2 separate regions of the Homo sapiens genome follow, and region 2 is linked to region 1. The links come from fine-mapping of genetic effects on gene expression. A gene starts in region 1. The other region holds a variant in brackets. All regions are shown on one strand. Distances are from middle to middle.

Region 1 (4,385 bases):
TGTTGGCCAGGCTGGTCTCGAACTCCTGACCTCGTGATCCGCCTGCCTCGGCCTCCCAAAGTGCTAGGATTATAGGCGTGAGCCACTGCACCTGGCCAGTTCTTCAGTTTTGGAACTCGGACTGGCTCTCTTTGCTCCTCAATCTGCAGACAATGTATTGTGAGACCCTGTAATCGTGTGCAATTAATACTTAATAAACTTCCCTTTATATATATAACTATTCCATTAGTTCTGTCCCTCTAGAGAACCCTGACTAATACACTGTCTCAAAAAAAGAAAAAAGTTCATCAAAATTAAAAAAAATCCAGGCTGGGTGTAGTGGCTCACACCTGCAATCCCAGAACTTTGGGAGGCCGAGGTGGGTGGATCACCTGAGGTCAGGAATTCGAGACCAGCCTGGACAACATGGTGAAACGCCGTCTCTACCAAAAATACAAAAATTAGCCGGCCGTGGTGGCAGGCACCTGTAATCCCAGCTACTCTGGAGGCTGAGGCAAGAGAATCGCTTGAACCCAGGAGGCAGAGGTTGCAGTGAGCCAAGATGGCACCACCGCACTCCAGGCTGGGCAACAAGAGCAAAACTCCATCTCAAAAAAAAAAAAAAAAAAAAACTAAATAAAATACAAAATTCCGCTCCTCAGTCTCCCTGGCCATATTTCAAGCGCTCAGTAGTCACACAAGCCTACTTGACTTCTGTGGTTACCGTATTTGACAGCAAAGGGAACACTCTCATCACTGCAGAACATGCTATTGGATGGTGGTGGTCCATGGCTTCCCCATGCCCCGAAATAAAGTCTAAACTCTGTACCCTGAGGCTGAAGCTCTGCATGACAAGCTCCTGCCTCGCCTCGGCCCTCACTGGTCCTTTCTGTGCCAAGCTTGCTCGTGCCTCAGGACCTCTGCATGGGTTCTCCTCTCTCCACCTGGAACACTGCTCTCTTTCCCCTGACCTTCCAGCGAGGCCTCCTTCTTCTTTCTTGCTTCTCTGCATCCAGGACCCCTCAAAAGGGCCTCCCTCGGTTGGGAGTGGTGGCTCACACCTGTAATCTCAGCACTTTGGGAGGCTGAGGTGGGCAGATCACCTGAGGTCGAGAGTTCGAGACCAGCACCTGAGGTCGAGAGTTCAAGACCAGCCTGGCCAACACAGTGAAACACTGTCTCTACTAAAAATACAAAAATTAGCTGGGTGTGGTAGTGGGCACCTGTAATCCCAGCTACTTGGGAGGCTGAGGCAGGAGAATCACTTGAACCCAGGAGGTGGAGGTTGCAGTGAGCCAAGATCAAGCCATTGCACTCCAGCCTGGGTGACAGAGTAAGACTCTGTCTCAAAAAAAAAAAAAATTAGCTGGGCATGGTGGTACGTGCCTGTAATCCCAGTTACTCGGGAGGCTGAGGCAGGAGAATTGCTTCAACCCAGGAGGTGGAGCTTGCAGTGAGCCGAGATCGCGCCATTGTACTCCAGCCTGGGCTGCAGAGCAAGACTCCGTCTCAAAAAAAAAAAAAAAAAAAAAAAAAGGGCCTCCCTCTCTGCCCCTGGCTGACTCCTGCCCTAAACCATATCCCTGTACCCGCCGGAAGGCCTGCTGCAGAACAGATACTCAAAAACCGCTGGCTGAACACATGGACGAGGGGAAGCGTGTGGCCACTGATAAGGGCCGCATTTTACCTGATGCAATGGGCCAAAGTGAAGTCGGTTTCACCCTGGACCCCAAAATGTCACCGTTCTTAGGAGGAATCTCAGCTCCTCCCCTGTCCTTGAGTTTTCCCCAACTGGGTTTTCTCCCCCACCATCAGCCCCAAGCGCCTCATGGCCCCGCTACCTCACTGCATTCAGGTCTTCGGGTCACTGCTCAGATGTCTCCACTCAGAGCTCTCCCCGCCCCCTTCCCTGGTGTTATTTTCTTTTATTTTGTGCTACAGAGGGAGCTAGGAATTACATTATTTTAAGTCATTTAAAGTCGTCCCTCCCCCCCGGCGGTGAGCTGGGCGGGACCAGGCTGTCTGTCTTGCTCAGGGCCAGCTGCACCCAGCGCAGAGCCACCCAGGCACACAGTAGGCGCCCAATAAAGACCTGTCCGGCATCTGGATACCTCAGTCTGTACAGTGAAGGTGAGGGTGGCCTGCACGCTCTCAAACCGGAGGCTGCTCGGGCCGGGATGAGGAGGGCACGGGCTCATTCATTCAATCAGCACTTATTGAGCGCCTTCTGTGTGCCTCGCGCTACCGGGCACCGGAGACGGGCCTCGGCTAACGTGCGGGTAGAGTCCAACAGACCCCCGGCCGCTCAGCGCCGCCCCGCCCCGCCGCCCCAGGTCCTCTCTCTGCCCGCACCTACCTCCCGGGGGCCCCTCGTCCGCCGACTGGCGCCGCTGCACGCCCAACGGCCGCGCAGTCTCGACCCCACAGACGCGGCCCGGAGAGGCCCCGCTCGGCGCGGCTGGTCCACGCCCCGCCCACGCCCCTGCCCATTGGCCTCCCCGAGACCCGCTGGCAGAACTTTCCATACTATTGGCTGCGAAACCTGCCACTCATATGCGACTCCACCTCTCCTACCGGCACAGGAAAGGGGTTTCCTCCCGCTGAGCGGCGGGCGCAGCCACCAAGCGGCCCCGGCGGGAAACCCGGATTGGCGAGGAACGGTTCCGGCAGGGTTGGGTTTCCAGAGCTGTCCAGGGGCGCCTGGTGCTGAATCCCGCTTGGAAAGAGGCTTGGAGGTGGATGGGAAGGGATTTCCAACGGAGGCGGCTCCTCTCTCAGCGTCCTCGCTGCTGATCCCCTTACCGACGGCTGAAGAAGCAGATTCATCCCTTCAACAAATCTCTGTTGATAGGCAGGAGGAGTAAGTCCAAGAGATCGACTGTACATCATGGTGGCTACAGCTCGTAACAATGCATTGCATACTGCAAAATTGCTAAGAAAGTAGATGTTACATGTTCAAACCATGAAAAAATAAGTATAGGAGGTAACGCGTAAGTTAAAAACCAAATCTTGGCAGGGCGCAGTGGCTCACACTTGTAATCTCAGCACTTTAAGAGACCGAGGCGGGAGGATCGCTTGAGTCCAGGAGTTCAAGGCCAGCCTGGGCAGCATAGTGAGACCCCATCTCTAAAAAAAAAAAAAAGGTTTTTTTTGAGACAGAGTCTCGCTCTTGTCACTCAGGCTGGAGTGCAATGGCGCGATCTTGGCTCACTGCAACTTCCGACTCCCGTGTTCAAGCGATTCTCCTGCCTCAGCCTCCCGAGTAGCTGGGATTATAGGCGTGTGCCACTATGCCGGCTAATTTTTGTGTTTTTAGTAGAGACGGGGTTTCACCATGTTGGCCAGGCTGGTCTTGAACTCCTGACCTCAGGTGATCCTCTTACCTTGGCCTCCCAAAGTGCTGGGATTACAGGCATGAGCCACTGCGCTTGGCCTGATGACTTGATTCTAACAAATAGAAAATGGCAAATGAATGGGATGTCATTCTGCGATTAGGCTATGAGAGATTGTGACTTCTGTTTTGCCAGCAGAGCCTGTCTCTCGCCTTCTCAGCCTACGTGTCTTGACAAAGCAAGCTAAGATGCTGGAGAGATCCAGAGGGAAAGGAACTGAGGGTGTCCTCCAGCCAACAGTCAGCAAGGCAATGAGACCCTCAGCACAAGCGTCCATAAGGAACCAAATGCTACCAACAGCCATGAACGTGATCATGGAAGAGGGTCCTGCCCCAGTTGAGCCTTTGGATGACTGCTTCACTTCAATTGCAGCCTTTGAAACACCCTAAAACAGGGCTGCATGTGGTAGCTCATGCCTATAATCCCAGCACTTTGGAAGGCCGAGGTAGGCAGGTCACTTAAAGTCAGGAGTTTGAGACTAGCCTGGCCAACACGGCAAAACCCCATCTCTACTAAAAATACCAAAATTAGCCAGGCATGGTGGCGGGCACCTGTAGTCCCAGCTACTAAGGAGGCTGAGGCATCAGAATCACTTGGACCCAGGAGGCAGAGGTGACAGCGAGCTGAAATCATTACCATTACACTCCAGCCTGGGCAACAGAGTGAGACCCTGTCTCAAAAGAAAAAAAAAGAAGAAGAAGAAGAAGAAAGAAAGAAAAACAAAGACCCTGAAAACAGAAGACCCATATGAACTGCATCTGAATTCCTCACCCACAGAAACTGAGATAACACATGCTGTTCTAGCCACTTAGTTTTGTGTTTGTTTGCTTGTATTTTGAGACAGGGTCCTGCCCCATCACCCAGGCTGGAGTGCAGTGGTGCAATCACAGCTCACTGCAGCCATGACCTCCTGGGCTCAAGCAGTCCTCCCACCTCAGCCTCCCGAGTAGCTGGGAGCATGTGCCACCATGCCCAGCTAATTTTTTACCTAATGTCACACAGGCCAGTCTTGAA
Region 2 (4,385 bases), 29 kb before region 1:
AAACTGCCAAATATTCTTCCAGAGAGTTATATATTTTTTAATGTTTTCTTTTGAGATAGGGTCTTACCAGTTTGCCCAGGCTGGTTTTGAACTCCTGGGCTCAAGTGATCCTCCTGCCTTAGCCTCCCAAAGTGCTGGGATTACAGGCATGAGCCTGTATTTTTTAATGGTTACTTTTTTTCCAGAACACTAAAGCAGTTGAAAGTATTCAAGGATTGAAAAGATGTTGTATTCAAACTCACAATGTCATGTGTCTTTTTACAATGTTATTATTAAGTTTCTTTATGTCCAAATAGACTTTATTATAATTTTACTGTCCTAGTTTTAGTAGAAGCAAATCCTACTAAATCATCAGTCATATTTTCAAAATCTACTTCTGGAAAAAATCAACCACTAAAAATGCATACAGATATATAAAGGTGCTGGGCCGGGCGCGGTGGCTCACGCCGGTAATCCCAGCACTTTGGGAGGCCAAGGCAGGTGGATCACGAGATCAAGAGATCGAGACCAGCCTTGCCAACATGGTGAAACCCCATCTCTACTAAAAATACAAAAATTAGCTGGGTGTGGTGGCACGCACCTGTAGTCCCAGCTACTCAGGAGGCTGAGGCAGGAGAATCGCTTGAACCCGGGAGGCGGAGGTTGCAGTGAGCCGAGACGTGCCACTGCACTCCAGCCTGGCAACACAGCAAGACTCCATCTCAAAAAAAACAAAAAGAAAAGAAAAGAAAAAAGAAAATTAGATGGGCACAGTGGCACACACCTGTAGTCCCAGCTACTCTGGAGGATGAGGCAGGAGAATCGCTTGAACTGGAAAGGAGGAGGTTGCAGTGAGCCGAGACTGCACCACTGCACTCCAGCCTGGACAACAAATTGAGACAGTCTCAAAAAAATAGAAAGATATGTAAAGATGCTTAAATATTTGGTATATGTACACATGCACACATTTTTCCTTTTGCCTGAGGCTCTCAGGGGAAGGTTGGATGCTGTCTTTATTTGGGACTTTAAAATTTTGTTCAATGCAGATTTTTTGTACTCATGTCAATTTTTAAAAAAATATTGCATTAGGACCAGGTGCAGTGGCTCATGCCTGTAATCCTAGCACTTTGAAAGGCCAAGATGGGAGGATTGCTTGAGGCTAGGAGTTCAAGACCAGACTGGCCAACATAGTGAGACCCCCATCTCTACTAATAATACAAAAAATAAAAATTAGCTGGGCCGTGGTGGTGCATGCCTATAATCCCGGCTACTCGGGAGGCTGAGGCAGGAGAATTGCTTGAACCTGGCAGGTAGAGGTTGCAGTGAGCAGAGATCATGCCACTGCACTCCAGCTTGGGCAACAGAGCAAGACTCTCAAATACATACATATTGCATTAGTGAGGGTGGCTAGCGTGGCTAGGAGGGATATCACGAGGGAGTCTTTGGTGTCGCTTAAGTGTCTTGTTTGTGCAGTGGCTTACACCTGTCATCCCAGCACTTTGGGAGGCCGAAGCAGGAAGATCCGTTGAGCCCAGGAGTTCGAGACCATTCTGGGCAACATGGCAAGACCCCCCCACCATATCTACAAATATATATATAAGAAAATTAGCCGGGCGTGCTGGCTCACTCCTGCAATCCCAGCACTTTGGGAGGCCGAGGTGGGCGGATCACGAGGTCAGGAGATTGAGACCATCCTGGCTAACACGGTGAAACCCGTCTCTACTAAAAATACAAAAAATTAGCCGGGCGTGGTGGCGGGCGCCTGTAGTCCCAGCTACTCGGGAGGCTGAGGCAGGAGAATGGCGTGAACTTGGGAGGCGGAGCTTGCAGTGAGCCGAGATCGCACCACTGCACTCCAGCCTGGGCGACAGAGCCAGACCCCGTCTCAAAAAAAAAAGAAAGAAAGAAAATTAGCCACATGTGGTGACGTGCATGTGTCTGTAGTCCCAGCTACTCAGTTACTCGGGGGGCGCTGAGGTGGGAGGATCACTTGAGCCCAAGAGATTGAGGCTGCAGTGAGCTGTGTT[C/T]ACACCACTGCACCATTCCAGCCTGGGCGACGGAGCAAGACCCTGACCAAAAAAAAAAAAAAAAAGTATCTCGTGACGGTGTTTAGAGGAAGTTATGCGTGTGATAAAACTGCATAAACCACACACACACTCACACACTCAGATGAGTGCATGCAAATCCAGTGAAGCTTGCATCCTTCCACTGTGCTGGTTTTGAGGTTATACTGCAGTTATGCAAGATGTAAACATAGCTGGGGGGCTGGGTGCAGGGTGCATCAGACCTCCTTGTACCTTCCCGTGAATCAATAATTATTAATAAATAAAACGTTTTAAAAATTGCAATGAAGGCCAGGCACGGTGTCTCATGCCTGTAATCCCAGCGCTTTGGGAGGCCAAGGCAGGTGGATCACCTGAGGTCAGAAGTTTGAGACCAGCCTGGCCAACATGGTGAAACCCCATCTCTATTAAAACCACAAAAATTAGCCGGGCATGGTTGTGGGCGTCTGTAATCCCAGCTACTCGGGAGGCTGGGGCAGGAGAATTGTTTGAAGCCGAGATCACACCACTGCACTCCAGCCTGGGCGACAGAGCAAGACTCCGTCTCAAAAAAAAAATAATTTTTAAAAGAGGGTGTCTCAAAACCCATGGTCACTTGGAGAAATAGAGGAGGGGGTCCCAGGCAGGTGCTATGCTCCCTGCAGCTGCAGCTGGGATCCCACCATCTTCACATCTGACCTGGAGGACATATCACTAACCACGGCCCTCTCCCGCCTCCTGGGATCCTGGCAAGCCAGACTCCAACCATACATTCACATTACACAGATAGGGAAGCTGAGGTCCTGTGGGTTCCTGCCTTTGTAAAATAGGGCTCTTAGTGCCTGTCCGACCTCCTCAGCCAGCTGCGGTAAGTACACGGTACAGCGGGGCCCTCGAGGTCTCTTGAGGGAAATGCTGAAATGTTCCCGTAACCCCCTGGCATCCTTCTCGTGAAAGTCCAAACTCTTCCCACAGCCCACCAGGCACTGTTTGACCCCTGCTGGCGACCTTCAACTTCACTGGCCACCTTCCCTCTCCTCCCTCCACTCCTCCCAGCCAGGCCTCACCTGTTCCTGCTTTGACACCTTTGCTGGTCCCCCTGTCCAGTGCTCCGTCCCAGGTCCCCTTGGAGCTGGCCTCTCCCCCGCTTCCCACATCAGCAAACACGTCAGCTTCTGAGTCAGACCTCAGAAGGCCTGGGACTCCCAGCCACGTCACTTTTGTGATGCAGGTTTATCTTCTGCGTAGGGAGCATGTGTCTGCGATGATTTGATCCACTTCTTCATAGGGAATCATCGTCCCCAGTGGGTTATGCTCTCTGAGCAGGCAGGGGGCTCTGGGGCTGGTGTCTGTCACTGCTGTGTCCCCAGCATCAGGGCAGGACCAGGCATAGAGTGGTGCCTCTTACATACTGGATGAATGAATGAATGAATGAACCAATGAATACGTGAATGAATGATGTCTCAGCTCTTCCTTCCTTCCAGTCTGGTCCTGAACAACGCCTTACCTCTTCAGGTCAGATCCCTGCCCCAGCCTGCTCTGGGTTAGGGGTGAGGGGTGGGGGCTGGGCTGGCAGATGGGACAAGCAGGGAAGGTCCCCTGACATGGTTTGGCTCTCTGTCCCCACCCAAATCTCATGTTGAATTGTAGTCCCGTGTTGGAGGTAGTGCCTGATGGGAGGCGACTGGATCATGACGGTGGATCCTCATGAATGGATCCACCCCTCAGTCCTGTCTCATAATAGAGTTCTCACAAGATCCGGTATGGCACCTCCTCCCCTGTGCTCCTGCTCCGGCCGAGTGACCTGCCTGCTCCCCTCTGCCTTCCCCCATGACCGTAAGTTTCCTGAGGCCTCCCAGAAGCAGCTGCTGCCATGCTTCCTGCACAGGCTGTGGAACTATGAGCCAATTAAACCTCTTTTCTCTATCATTTACCTGTATCAGGTATTTCTTTTCTTTTTGTGGGGCGGCGGGGGGTTGGACAGAGTTTCATTCTCGTCACCCAGGCTGGAGTGTAGTGGCACGATCTCAGCTCACTGCAAGCTCCGCCTCCCGGGTTCAAGTGATCCTCCTGCCTCAGCCTCCCTAGTAGTTGGGATTACAGACTCCCGCCACCACGCCCAGCTAATTTTTTGTATTTTTAGTAGAGACAGGGTTTTGCCATGTGAGCCAGGCTGGTCTCAAACTTCTGGTCTCAGGTAATATGCCCTTCTCGGCCTCCCAAAGTGCTGGGACTACAGGCATGAGCCACCGTGCCCGGCCTGGGTATTTCTTTATAGCATTCCAAGAATGGACTAATACAGTCTCCTCTGCCCCAACGCCACTGGGCCTGCAAGGAAATTGTCCACGTTCACAGAAAGTCCAG

Alleles and levels. Positions count from the first base shown, and alleles are read on the strand shown. Sizes are in standard deviations (SD) of each study's normalised expression.
For the expression in monocytes after Pam3CSK4 of the gene that starts at base 2,408 in region 1, C is the low allele of the variant in region 2 and T is the other (moderate effect, 0.70 SD a copy in Quach 2016).

Evidence for each region. PIP is the estimated chance that this variant, and not a neighbour inherited with it, causes the effect.
Region 2: its variant is the best candidate, but not a certain one, in a credible set for the expression of SLC39A3 in monocytes after Pam3CSK4 (Quach 2016, PIP 0.52).

What each region holds. Positions count from the first base shown.
Region 1 is chr19:2,737,610-2,741,994 of GRCh38, forward strand. SLC39A3 (solute carrier family 39 member 3) reads right to left here and starts at 2,408. Exons shown (of 3, transcript NM_144564.5): 1 at 2,336-2,408. RefSeq lists silencers at 1,504-1,771, 2,180-2,579 and enhancers at 1,890-1,939, 2,640-2,689.
Region 2 is chr19:2,708,482-2,712,866 of GRCh38, forward strand. No RefSeq gene overlaps it. Among named protein-coding and RNA genes, the nearest start is that of GNG7, 8.0 kb to the left of the region's middle. RefSeq lists an enhancer at 2,010-2,089. The variant C/T (reference allele first, on the strand shown) is at 2,007.